Linked DNA regions of Homo sapiens. The protein of the gene in region 1 interacts with the protein of each later gene in a pairwise test. Each region holds a gene or a part of one and is shown on either strand. Other genes may lie near its edges.

Evidence for each region. Proteins that work in one complex are often made in the same cells at the same time.
Region 2: the proteins of CREB5 (region 1) and PCSK5 interact in binary tests that used the Homo sapiens proteins (3 or more experiments, as listed by UniProt).

The regions. Positions count from the first base shown.
Region 1 is NC_000007.14:28,800,517-28,807,552, forward strand, and holds part of CREB5 (cyclic AMP-responsive element-binding protein 5), read left to right. Parts: intron 1-3,682; coding exon 3,683-4,006; intron 4,007-7,036. UniProt on the Homo sapiens protein: Binds to the cAMP response element and activates transcription.
Region 2 is NC_000009.12:76,320,671-76,327,706, forward strand, and holds part of PCSK5 (proprotein convertase subtilisin/kexin type 5 isoform 3 precursor), read left to right. Parts: intron 1-751; coding exon 752-969; intron 970-2,381; coding exon 2,382-2,618; intron 2,619-6,866; exon of another isoform or gene 6,867-7,036. UniProt on the Homo sapiens protein: Serine endoprotease that processes various proproteins by cleavage at paired basic amino acids, recognizing the RXXX[KR]R consensus motif. Likely functions in the constitutive and regulated secretory pathways.

The sequences.
Region 1 (7,036 bases):
GAAGTAGAGGCAGGGAGAAGGGATACATGGCCCTTATCATGTCTGTGTTTTGGAGTAGGGGAAATGTAAGTGTCAGTTCTTCACAAATACAACAAGGGAGATGAAGATGCTGAGCCCTGGACAATCCTTTCTTTGCTGCAGATGAGGTTCCTGGAAATTCTTTACCATCCACTCTCCCTTCCACTAAATTTCAGAAAGAGTGCATCCAGGTCCCTAGCTGTGTGCTGAGTAACACTTGCACGTGGCCATTGCTGGACCATTCGGCAATAACGTCTCCTCTTGTCAGCTCTTCTAGCCCCTTCTCGCGCTTTCTGCTTTTCCTTTTGATGATGGGGAGGTGGCAAAACACAGTTCATTTCTCTCTTTGGCAAAGTGTGAATGGCATGGCTTGTGGCACCTTCTCTCTTGGTTTAGAGAACAGGCTTTGGAGTTAGAGTGGCTTTGCCTCTCCTTTAGCCTTACACGGTTGTTCTGAGGATTAGGTAGCTTGATACTTGTAAAACATATAGAACAAGGACTGGCACATAGCATGTACTTAGTTAATGTTAGCCATTATTATTACCTATTTTTGCAGATATAGAAGGCTGTCAAAGATATATTGCTAAAGGGACAAAAAGCAAGATACAAAACTATGTATTAAAACAGCTTGATTTTGTGCAAAGCAAATGTCTGAGGATATGTGGTGGTTACATCTGAGGAACAGGACTGGGGTTTAGGGGAGAAGGCTAGGCAAGTGGCTTTTACTTTATTATCTAATATTTTTGTAGTAATTGATTTTTTATTATAAAAAGTATACTTTTATAGTAATGAAATTACAAGGAATAGTTTAGAAAGTCCATACTTTCCATCATGTCATTTTTTTAAAAAGGCATGATGATTTCAACATAACCTCTTTTCATATTTTTTCATCCTTAAATTCGGAAGTATCATCCAAAAACTTCTCCTGGGGGTAAAGAAACATGTATCTAAAACCCAGCAATTCCCCAGATTTTCATTTCTTTGCTGTGCCATAGTCAAATAAAAGTTTTTAAAATTACATGCTATTTTAATTCCACAGTTACAAAATTATTCTAGTTATTCTTTCATCTCTCCATATACATATATAGAGTTGTCTGGAATGCTGTTCACCCACCAGATATAAACAACGCATTTGGCTTCATTGTTGCTGACTTCATTGCAAAGCATTGCTTAAATTTTTATAATAAGCATTTTTATAAAAACAATGAAATCATTGCTTAAAATTGGAGATGAGAAGTGTTAGTTCACTTTTCTGTTTAGAAGTAAACATGGCCGGGTGTGGTGGCTCACGCCTGTAATCCCAGCTCTTTGGGAGGCCGAGGCAGGTGGATCACGAGGTCAAAAGATGGAGACCATCACAGCCAACATGGTGAAACCCTGTCTCTACTAAAAATACAAAAATTAGCTGGGCATGGTGGCACACGCCTGTAGTCCCAGCTACTCAGGAGGCTGAGGCAGGAGAATCGCTTGAACCCGGGAGGCAGAGGTTGCAGTGAGATCTTGCCACTGCACTCCAGCCTGGCGACACAGCGAGACTCCATCTGAAAAAAAAAAAAAAAAAAAAAAAAAAAGGAGGAAACACAGTACCCAGCATCTAATCTTTCCCAGACATTTAGGATGCTGAACTTCTTCAGGATTATGAAGGTCAGTAGCTGTTGTGCAGTATCTGTTGCTCATGAAAGAGGTGAGAAGTAGACTATGTGGCTACCGAATCGGGATGACAAAAATATTTTAAATGATGACCGCATATTAACATACAGTCTACCATCCTTTCCTCTTGTTTTTTATTTATTTTTTTTCTTAGCAGGTAGAGGCTCTTTATGTTTAATTAAGGATTTTGATTAATTGAATTGGTATTTTTCAATAGTGTATGTAACTGGTTGAGAATCATTAATATTGTACAGTGTTAGAGCATAGTAGCTTTGATCGTCATTTAAATACAACTGTTTCCTTGCCCAGCAATTATACACCACTATCATGAATCAGATAAGAACACAAATCTGGAAAGAACTTGCAGTCCCCTGGTAAATACTTCATGAAGGCAATGGGAGCTTGCCAATTAGACAATCATCTCTGCATAAGATATATTTCCAACGAGTAACTGCATTATACAGTCCTTAGCACATTATGCCCCTCGGGATATGATGATAATTGACTGTGTCACAGAAGAAACAATTTTGAAGAAACTGGGACTAAGCTGATTATCAACTGAATCTTTAGAACGGGGTTAGCAAATGATGGCCCAAGGGCCAAATCTGGCCCGCTGCCTAATTTTGTCCAGTGTATGAGCTAAGAATGGTTTTCAAGTTTTAAGTGACTGGGGAAAAAAATCAAAAGTAGAATAACATTTCTGACATGTAAAAATTATATGAAATTCAGATTTCCTGTCCCTGAAGTTGTATCAGAACATAGCAGATTCATTCATTTATACATTGTCTGCAGCTGCTTTTGCACCACAGTATCAGAGTTGAGTAGTTGTGACACAGAAGATAAGAGAAGAAAATACTGACTATCTGACTCTTTATAGAAAAAGTTTGCTGACCCCTCCTTTAGACTCAGGTACAAGTTATTTGTGTGCATGTCTGCTTATGAATGGATAATGCTTTTGTGTTAGAAATACATCTGGCCAGTTGATGTGGCCATCAAAGGAGGTGCAATACTTCATATTCTTCTATTTTCCTCACTCCCTTCTCAAAGTCAAAAGAAAGCTATTGAGTGAGAAAAATTAAGAGTATTGGAAGGGACCATAAGAAAAATCATGGTAACAGAAAAGACCTACACATTACCTCCGAAGCTTGTAAATTACTAACTCTAATTTTAAGCCCTAAAATCAGATTAGCTCTCTACTTTTTAAAATTTGAAATTATTTATTCTCTGTGTCTGAGAAATATTTTGAGAGGCAAGAGCATTTGTTCTTGTGACTCTTACAAGATACAGTGGCTGGCCGGGCACGGTGGCTCACGCCTGTAATCCCAGCACTTTAGGAGGCCGAGGCAGATGGATCACGAGGTCAGGAGTTCAAGACCAGCCTGGCCAAGATGATGAAACCCCATCTCTACTAAAAATACAAAAATTAGCTGGGCATGGTGGCAGATGCCTGTAATCCCAGCTACTCAGAAGGCTGAGGCAGAGAATTGCTTGAAGCTGGGAGGCGGAGGTTGCAGTGAGCCGAGATCGCACCACTGCACTCCAGCCTGAGTGACAGAGCAAGACTCCATCTCAAAAAAAAAAAAAAAAAAAAAAATTAAATACAGTAGCACACCAGATGGAGTCTCTTTGTTCAGTGCTATCACCATATTGAATGGTGCTCTTTGGTGTATGCTTGCATTCAGTTGTAGATACGATATAATGCATGATTGGATAATAGGAAATACCTTTTAGTAGAATGTATGATTCTTGATAGGATATCCTGCCCATTGGCTTTGACAGTTGAATTAACCTATTTGGCTGACATTGACCCTCCTACTGACCACGATATATAAGAAAATATGAAATTAATATAAAAGCTATCTTGTACTGGTAGCAAGATAGCTACTGGTAGGAAACATTAACAATAGCATCGTAAAATATAGAATTGAAAATGTGAGTCATTTTGCTTTTAAATCTCTATCATGTACATGACTGACTTCAGTTGTTCTCTCTCCTCCCTTTTGTTCTGTTTCAGAGGTTGAAGGCTGCATTGACTCACCACCCTGCTGCCATGTCAAATGGGAACATGAACACCATGGGACACATGATGGAGATGATGGGCTCCCGGCAGGACCAGACGCCACACCATCACATGCACTCGCACCCGCATCAGCACCAGACACTGCCACCCCATCACCCTTACCCACACCAGCACCAGCACCCAGCACACCATCCTCACCCTCAACCCCATCACCAGCAGAACCATCCACATCACCACTCCCATTCCCACCTTCATGCACACCCAGCACATCACCAGACCTCGCCACATCCGCCCCTGCACACCGGCAACCAAGCACAGGTAGACCTTTTCCGTGATCTCTTTCCCCTTCTTATTCTCCTTCTTAACAGTGCAAGCTCTAATGCTGGGGTCATTTGCAGCAATCTTGTTTGACAAGCCCAGGTGTTCTATCTCACATTCTAGGGGCTCTGTTTATCTCCTAGGAGGCAAGCCTTACCCATAAGACCCTACCAGATCATAATTTCTATAAATAATACACTAAAAAATATCAGGTCTAGTCTCTAAGGGCAAGCATAAACTTTAAGTTCTCCAAAATCTATTTTTGCAGTGTGTCAGAAAGTTAGCCCCTCTCAAAAGTAATATGAATCAATGGATTAGGAAGAACTTAAGCTTGTGAAGAAAGATGTGAATTAAGAATGAGAAAAACGAGTTAATTCTAACCCTGGTTCTAGCTGCTATGTTTTAAAACATCATAGAGACTCAATTTTGTCACCTGTAAAATGGAAGTTAAATACAACAGGCAATCTTCTGAGTAACAGTGAATGTTAAAAATCTAAAGAGTAACAATTCAAGGCAGACAAAGAAGCTCCATCATGGATGCTAGGGCGTAAGGTGCTGTGTAAATGGTGAAGAGAGGTGACTCATCCCCCTGAATGAGAAATGCGTTGGAGGGAACAGAAAGAGAGCCAAGTTCTGTAGATGATCAGACCAAGAGAAAGGCCAAATCCCAGTGGGTGAGAGTCACCAGGAGTGGCTGCAAAGAAAGCCAGCATTTAGACAAAACTGAAAGAGGGTTGGGGGACCAGGCAGACATTATGTCACCCACGGCCAAGAAGAGAGGCGAGTCCTGTACTGGAGTGAGTTTTAGTAAGTGGATGAAGGGCATGTCCAGGAGCATGGCTGGGCCTAGACACTTTGGATCCTCAAGCAGAATGACTTTCATCCATACCTTCCACCCAGTCCACACTGCCAGCTTCCAACCAGCTGAATCAGAAGGGTGTCGGAAGCATGGAACCGCCAAAAAACACTTATTCACTGTCTCCTCTGTCATCTGCCTCTGGAGACGTGACTTTATACCCGGCAGCTTTTTGAACTCTTGAGCCCCCCTCCATTAACATGCACCAAACCTGGACAGCCATCCACAGAATGGGTCAGGCACAAGCAACTCTCGAAGCTATTCATTAGATAAACTGTCTTTTGCAAGGTTCTTAGAGGTGTTCTACATTGTGAATAAGAATTGAGCATTAGAATGAGATAACCTTAATTTTTTTCCTGCCTTCCTCACTGTGTGATTGTGAACAGAAACAACCTCTCTACCCCTCAGTTTTCCCATCTGTAAAATGGGGCTGGGTAATAGTAGACTAAACTCCTAGGCTCTTATGAGTATTAAATAAGAGAATCTCTGTAAAGCCCTTGACACAGTGTTCAAAATATGTTATTCCAAACCAGTAGAAGTTTAGCAAATTGTATAGCAATCAAATGCTATCCAGAGAACATTTTTAGTCACATTTTTAGTCAAACGCCATACTAGAACATGTATTTAGAAAGAAAAAAAAAAACTACAAAGTCAATGATGGGCAAATTGATTCACATTTGTACTTAGTTTATAAGGAAACGAGAACATCAAGGTTTGGTTGCCTTTATGGGCAAGTTATTTCACAGAGCAAGTTATATAACAATTCTTTGAATATAAAAGCCATTCACTAGCTAATTACCAATTAGCCAATTGCCCTCTGTTTCAAGTCAGTAAGTGGCCAATAGTATATGCAATTAGTTAATTGCTATTATAATTAGCTTTATGAACAGTTGCTTTTTTTAATTGTATGCTAAAAAGAAAGAGCCCAGGTTGGTCTTGCTAAAATTTGAACCAGATCATTTAGGCAGTATCCCAAAATACCACTCTTAAATTGTATTAACTTGGCTGATTACTGAGATCTTGCCATTTTGCTTAATTGTATGATTATCTGAAAGTAGGAATAGAATCCTTTGAACTCTGAGATTCTAAGGTGATTTGGAATAAAATCTGCCTTTTTGAAATTATAATTTATTACTTTTGATCAAAATTTTCAGAGCATCTATGCCAAGAGAATTCTGCTTTAAAAATAAAATTACAAGCGACAATAATTACCAGGTATACAAATTCTGGTTTTAGGGTTGTATTTGCATTTTCTCCTGGCTTCTTGTGCTCCTCCTGCATGTAAGGATGTGATTGTAGAGTGCTGGTTTCAAGGAATTTCTCTTAATCAATCCTGAACCTAATTACACCTGAAACCACGTCACTTATGCCTTTGGGTGAAGGCACAGGAAAAGTATCATGGGTTACAGGTTGATTAAACTTAGGGTAGGAGGATACAGAATTGAAAGATAAGTCCCTGCAATGGAGATTAAAAATCAATTTTTTCCTATTTGAGGGTTTTGTCTGGGGCTGGCAATAAGAGATTATAATTCACAAAAGGAAACAGTTAAAGGCAAAAATATCCGAGCAGTTAGCACATTCCCTCTTAATGCTTTTCTTTGCAGTAGTTAGCTCAGGAATTAGCATCTGGAATGACAAGTGCTAAGCCCCTGCCAATAACAAGGATGACGCCTTCACTAGCAACTCTGATGAGTAAGACCTTAGACAGTTAATTTATTTTGTTATTCCTCTATAATCGGGAGGAAAAGAGTCACCAACAAACAAACAGTTCTAGAAAATGTCTTTGCTGGCCTGGTGCGGTGGCTCACGCCTGTAATCTCAGCACTTTGGGAGGCTGAGGCGGGTGGATCACGAGGTCAGGAGTTCAAGACCTGCCTGGCCAAGATGGTGAAACCCTGTGTCTACTAAAAAACTACAAAAATTAGCCAGGCATGGTGGCAGGCACCTGTAATCCCAGCTACTTGGGAGGCTGAGGCAGGAGAATCGCTTGAACCTGGGCAGCAAAGGTTGCAGTGAACCGAAATCGCGCCACTGCACTCCAGGCTGGGCGACAGAGAGAGACTCCGTCTCAAGAAAAAAAGAAAATGTCTTTGCTTTGCATAAAATTACTAAGATGCAGTTCAACCTCAACCCTGGGCCTGATTCTTTTACAGTTAGTCATAGATGGTTTGATA
Region 2 (7,036 bases), on another chromosome or scaffold:
GCCATGCTGGCCAAGCCAGTCTCAAACTCCTGATCTCAGGTGATCCACCCACCTCAGCCTCCCAGAGTGCTGGGATTACAGGCATGAGCCACCCTACCCAACCCATTGTAGCTTTTTAAAATCTTAGTAACTATCTGGTTTTTGGTTTTGTTTTTTTTTTTTTAAGACAGAGTCTCACTCTGTCACCAGGTTGGAGTGCAGTGGCATGATCTCGGCTCACTGCAGCCTCTGCCTCCCGAGTTCAAGTGATTCTCCTGTCTCAGCCTCCCGAGTAGCTGAGACTATAGGCGTGCACCACCACACCCAGCTAATTTTTGTATTTTTTAGTAGAGACAGTGTTTCACCATGTTGGCCAGAATGGTCTCGATCTCCTGACCTGATGACCTGCCCACCTCGGCCTCCCAAAGTGCTGGGATTACAAGCGTGAGCCACCACACCCGGCCAGTTAGCTATCTTTTTAAGGAATAGCGTGGGAGGCAGGTTTACCCTAAGCAGTTCCCAGCTTGATTTTTCCCTTTGGCTTAGTAATACTGGGGTCCCAAGATTTATTTTCCTTTCACAAGAATAATGCTTGTCCTTTTCCTTCCATTTTTCTGAATGTTCTTTTCACTTCCTTATAAATCCCATGGATGCCTCTCAGCTGACGACAGCAGCAGCCCTTTTGTTTTTAGACCTAATTCCTTTTCCCCAGGAATGAGTCACTTCTCCAGCAGGTCAGCTTCTCCAGTTGCACTCTGTCTTCCTTCCACAGGGGCTCTTATGCAGAAGACGGCATATGTGAACGCTGTAGCTCTCCTTGCAGAACATGTGAAGGAAACGCCACCAACTGCCATTCTTGTGAAGGAGGCCACGTCCTGCACCACGGAGTGTGCCAGGAAAACTGCCCCGAGAGGCACGTGGCTGTGAAGGGGGTATGCAAGCATTGCCCAGAGATGTGTCAGGACTGCATCCATGAGAAAACATGCAAAGGTACCTAGGAGCTTCCCACAGGAGAGCAAGGCTCTGCTGAGCCACCAGTTGGGGGCCGATTATCTGAGGGTGGATGGCAAAGAGCTGTGGGAACCAGTCTCCCTACCATTCCTGAAAGGTATGTCTCTGTGCCTGTCATCAGAGAAACTGAGGGTGAGATACACCCTTTTCATTATGGATGCTGCAAGTTAAGACAAGCAAGAGCCCCTTTTTGCATGATCTCTTACACTCACCCCCATATGTACACACACAGCAGATGTGCAAGTGCTATCCTAGGTGCTAGAGGTACAGAGAAGAACCCAATGTTCTCATCTTTTTTTTTTCCTTGAGATGGAGTTTCACTCTTGTTGCCCAGGCTGGAGTGCAATGGCTCAATCTCAGCTCACTGCAACTTCTGCCTCCCATGTTTAAGCGATTCTCCTGCCTCAGCCTCCAGAGTAGCTGGGATTACAGGCACGCTCCACCACGCCGGGCTAATTTTAACATTTTTAGTAGAGACGAGGTTTCTCCATGTTGGTCAGGCTGGTCTCAAACTCCTGACCTCAGGTGATCCACCGTCCTCAGCCTCCCAAAGTGCTGGGATTACAAGCGTGAGGCACCACGCCCAGCTGTTCCCATCTTTTGGAACACAAAATCTTACAGACTGATAGTAAGCCACAAAACACAGAGGTAGCTAGAAAACTGCAGTTGTTAAAAAGGATAGGAAAGAAAAGTTCGGGCAACTATGACTGAGATGACCACTCTGGCTGTGAATGAATTTTGTTGTTTTTTTCCCTCAGGAATTATCTCCCCCAAAAAGCTGTTCAATTTTCTCTCCAGAATAAGACAGACTCATTTAACTGGTGCTGTCCTATCCAAAGTATTCTCTTGGTGTGACCTCAAGTGTTTCCCAGGATTCCCCCCAAAGTAAGAAAATGAACACAAAAAAAATAAACCCGCAATGTATTCTTCACACTGATCAATCCTGTATTCATTGTTGTACCTGATCAATGAATGAAAAGTTAACTAATCCAACCATTCCTAAACTGCTTTCTGTGTTGAAAACAGTGTGAGGTTCTCAATACAATTTTTTAAATCTGTTAATGCTCTTCGGGTTTTTCAAACAATACCGCCAGCCTCTCAGCCATCCCTGTCTTTTGCAGCATTGCAAATTTTTGCACTGCACCTCCAAAGGGCAGACCATTTCATTGTGTAAGTCCAGCACCATCTAATACGGTCACCATGTGTGGCCTCCTTGTCCCAAGGCAGGGCTTGTTAGACATCAAGTCTATGCCCTGGCAGGGTGGGTAAAGGGCAAGCATACTCTCAGGTCAAATCAACCAAAGTGCTGAGGGAGGAGCTAGCCTACTGCAGACAATGAATTCCTTTCTCCTACCCCCCGGGGATAACTTGCTGCTTCCTCCTTTTCCCAGAGTGCACGCCTGAGTTCTTCCTGCACGATGATATGTGCCACCAGTCCTGTCCCCGTGGCTTCTATGCAGACTCGCGCCACTGTGTCCCCTGCCATAAAGACTGTCTGGAGTGCAGTGGCCCCAAAGCCGACGACTGCGAGCTCTGTCTTGAGAGTTCCTGGGTCCTCTATGATGGACTGTGCTTGGAGGAGTGTCCAGCAGGAACCTATTATGAAAAGGAGACTAAGGAGTGCAGAGGTAAAGACTTCTGGGATTCAAAATAGGCTCCGGGGTTTGCATAGTTCCAGCCCCAGCCCCAGCGCCAGAGCTGTCATCTCAATCTTTTTTTTGTTGTGTTTTGTTTTTGTTTTGGGACAAGGTCTCCCTCTATTGCCCAGGCTCAAGTTCAGTAGCACGAACATGGCTCACTGAAGCCTCCGCCTCCTGGGCTCAAGTGATCCTCCCACCTCAGCCTCCAGAGTTGCTGGGAACATAGAGATGAGGTCTCAGAATGTTGCCTAGGCTGGTCTTGAACTCCTGGCTTCAAGCAATCCTCTGCCTTGGGCTCCCAAAGTGCTGGGATTACAGGTGTGAGTCACCATGACCAGTCCATCTCATCCTTTACCATCTCACTCAAGGAGGCATATTTTGAACCGGTTGTAAATAATCTTTAAATGAATCACTCATAAGCTTTGTACAGGTAACTTTTATTAGTGACAAATCACGTGGACCTTCCTCACAACAGTGGCTATGAACTGCTGGTCAAAAGAAGTTATCATATAAAGATTTACAGCAGAGAGGAGGAGCCTTCAAAAGCTACCTGAGACTTTTCTTGATAACACAAGCAAATTGTGACACCATAAGGGACTTTCTTGGTGCCTCTTGTCTCCCTTCCTGGGTGATTTTTTTTTTTTTTTTGAGACAGAGTCTCACTCTGTTGGCTAGAGTGCGGTGGCACGATCTTGGCTTACTATAACCTCTGCCTCCTGGGTTCAAGCGATTTGCCTGCCTCAGGCTCCTGAGTAACTGGGACTACAGGCGTGTGCCACCACGCCTGGCTAATTTTTCTATTTTTAGTAGAGAGGGGGTTTCACCATGTTGACCAGGCTGGTCTTGAACTCCTGACCTCAAGTGATCCACCTGCCTCGCCCTTCCAAAGTGCTGGGATAATAAGCGTGAGCCATGGCGCTCGGTCCATATTTTGTTATTGTTGTTCTTGAGATGGAGTCTCACTCTGTTGCCCAGGTTGGAGTGCAGTGGCATGATCTCAGCTCATCGCAGCCTCCACCTCCTGGGTTCAAGTGGTTCTCCTGCCTCAGCCTCCTGAGTAGCTGGGATTATAGGTGGCTGCCACCACACCTAGCTAATTTTTGCATTTTTAGTAGAGACAGGGTTTCACCATGTTGGCCAGGCTGGTCCTGAATGCCTGATCTCAAGTGATCCGCCCACCCTGGCCTCCCAAAGTGCTGGGATTACAGGTGTGAGCCACCGCGCCCAGCCTCCCTTCATGGTTTGCTCCCTGGAAGCTCCCCACCTTCCTCTTCATATCCTTCAATTCCTGCTCCAAGGTCCCCATTTCCACTCCCACTCAGTCCCTGCATGTTCAAGAAAGGATCTGCTATTATTTATACCTCCTTATGTTTTAACTCGGCATGAATCATTTGCCTCTTATTCATTATCAAGGAACAGAAAAATAAAATAAGTTATGCACTCTAGAATTCTCTAGCAAGTGAGAGAAATGTTGTGGGGCGGGGGCTTTTCTAGAGCCCAGGATTCACTCTGTTGAGGCAGCCTGAGGTCCTTCACCCCCACATGTCGCCCCCAAGCAAACACGACAAGATAGATGTCCAGAGGCAATTCCCCTAACAACCGCGAGAGCCTGAGAGTGACCTTCCACTGAGAAACCCTGGGACACCCACACCCTAGGACATACTGAGGGGAAGGTTTTTAGTAGGACACGAAGATGTGTCTCGGTCCTGAAGGCTTTCTGCTCCAGCCTTGTGCTGTGGATATGTCTTTTTGTGTGTTTTATATAAAGCACTATTTAGTGTTAATGTCCTACCTGCCCATATGTGAAAAGGCGTGGATGTCAAGGCTGTGTCCGCATGCAGAAGAGGCGGGTGTTCGTGTGGGAGGCAGGCTGTGGAGCTGGGAATGGCTTCTGGGAGGTGAGAGACTCAGCAGCAGGCCTCCAGCGCCATCTTGCCTCTGCGAGGGCAGGAACTGAGGTTCAACTTCTGGCCTTTCTCTGGTGTTGAATAATGAAAGTAATTTACCATACAGAGAGCTTTACAGGTCTCAGAGTATGTTTTCTTAATTTATCTGATTTAATTATCTCCTTGAGAAAGGCCCCTGGTTGCCCATTAGAATCACCTGGGCAGCTCTTAAAACCACAGATGCCTGCACCCAACATTCTAATTCCTTCTCCCACCACCAGTAATTCTGATGCTTAGTGTGGGTTGAGAGCCATTGAGGTAAATGGCAATTTTCTGCATTTTTCTGAGAAGGAAACAGATGCTTTGAGAAGTTAAGCACTTGCTCAATGTGACCCCACTAGTGAGGACAGAGTTGGAAACTCACTTGAGGTGTCTCCCTACAATGACATTGCACTTTCTTTTTTTTGAGACGGAGTTTTGCTCTCGTTGCTGCCAGGCTGGAGTGCAATGGCGCGATCTGGACTCACCACAACCTCCGCCTCCCTGGTTCAAGAGATTCTCCTGCTTCAGCTTCCCGAGTGACTGGGATTACAGGCATGTGCCACCACACCCAGCTAATTTTGTATTTTTAGTAGAGACAGAGTTTCTCCATATTGGTCAGGGTGGTCTCGAACTCCTGACCTTAGGTGATCTGCCCGTCTCTGCCTCCCAAAGTGCTGGGATTACAGGCGTGAGCCACCATGCCCGGCCGCCATTGCACTTTCTACCAGACCAAAGGGAGGGGAAGGAATGTGGTATTGGAAGAAACAGTGACAACCTGACTTTCCAGAGAGATAATACAAAGAACCTGATCTGAAAATTAAGATTTGGGGAAGTGTAGAGAAGCGTTTAGAATGGAGCAATCTCAGCCGGACACGGTGGCTCACATCTGTAATCTCAACAACACTTTGGGAGGCCAAGGCAGGAGGATCTCTTGAGTCCAGGAATTTGAGACCAGCCTGGGCAACATAGCAAGACCCTATTTCTAAAACAAAAATAATTATACAAAAATTAGCCAGATGTAGTGGTGTGTGCCTGTAGTCCCAGCTACTCAAGAGGCTGAGATGGGGGGATCACTTTAGCCTGGGAGGTCAATGTTTCAGTGAGCCATGATCACACCACTGCACTCTAGCCTGGGTGACAGAGCAAGAACCTATAGCAAAAAAAAGAAAAAAAAATCTGTAAGCAGGATCTTCTCTAAGAAACACAAGGACTTTGGATCCATTCCAATCACCCAGATTATCCTGTAATAGATAGTACAGACACCTCTAAAAGTCCCATACCTTTCCTGAAGCACTGGAGCAGAAGCAGCAAGGCAGTTGCTAAGGTCCTGGGCTCAACTCCTGATACTACTTAGCGTAAGTGACTTAGCATCTCCAGCCTCAATTTCCTGATTTAGATAAAATGAGAGGATAATATAAACAATAATAATACCATGCATGTATCCACCCAGGGAATGCTTACAGGGGGGCCTGCTATGTGCCGTGTGCTCTTTCAGGTCTGGGGAACAGCAGGGAGTGAGACAGAGTCCCTGCCCTCATGGAGCTCACATTCTGTTAGGGAAGACAGGTACTAACGACCATAAGCCAAGAGCAAAAATAAGGCAGAGGTGCAGGACAGGGAGATAGGCAGGATGGAGATAAAACTTGAGAGATGTCTTAGATTTCATTGAGAAAGGCAGGAAGCAAACCATGCATGCCTCTGGGAGAAGAGAATTGCAGGCAGACAGAATGGCAACTACTAAATCCCAGAGATGGTCGGCCTGGTGCAGTGGCTCATGCCTGTAATCCCAGCCCTTTGGGAGGCCAAGGCAGGAAAATCACTTGAGGCCAGGAGTTCAAGACCAGCCTGGGCAGCAAAGTGAAGGCCCATCTCTATTTTTTTTTTTTTTTTTTTCCTGAGACAGGGTCTCACTCTGTCACCCAGGCTGGAGTGCAGTGGTGCAATCACAGCTCACTGCAGCCTTGACCTCCTGGGCTCAGGAGATCCTTCCACCTTAGCCTCCTGAGTAGCTGGGACTACAGGCACCCGCCACCATGCCCAGCTAATTTTTGTGTTTTTTCTAGAGACAGTGTCTTGCCATGTTGCTCAGGCTGGTCTCGAACTCCTGGGCTCAAACAATCCATCCACCTTGGCCTCCCAAAGTGCTAGGATTACAGGCGTAAGCCACTGCACCCAGCCCCCGTCTCTAGTTAAATACAGAAAAAGAAAACCTAGAGGTGGAAGATAATTGTTATTTTCTTTTTTTAACAAATACTTATCGATTCCTATTACATGCCAGGCCCTCTCATAGGCACTATGTATTCAAAAATAAATGCAAAAGGGACCTTTATTTGTCAACAGACAATTAAATACATTCCAACAATTGCTGTATTCGTGATAAGCTCAAGGTACTCCGGAGGTGAGTGGAGGACCATAACAGTAGGTGTTGTGACGGTGGAAAATTCGATGCCATTACAGAATGGCTTGTTATTATTTTGT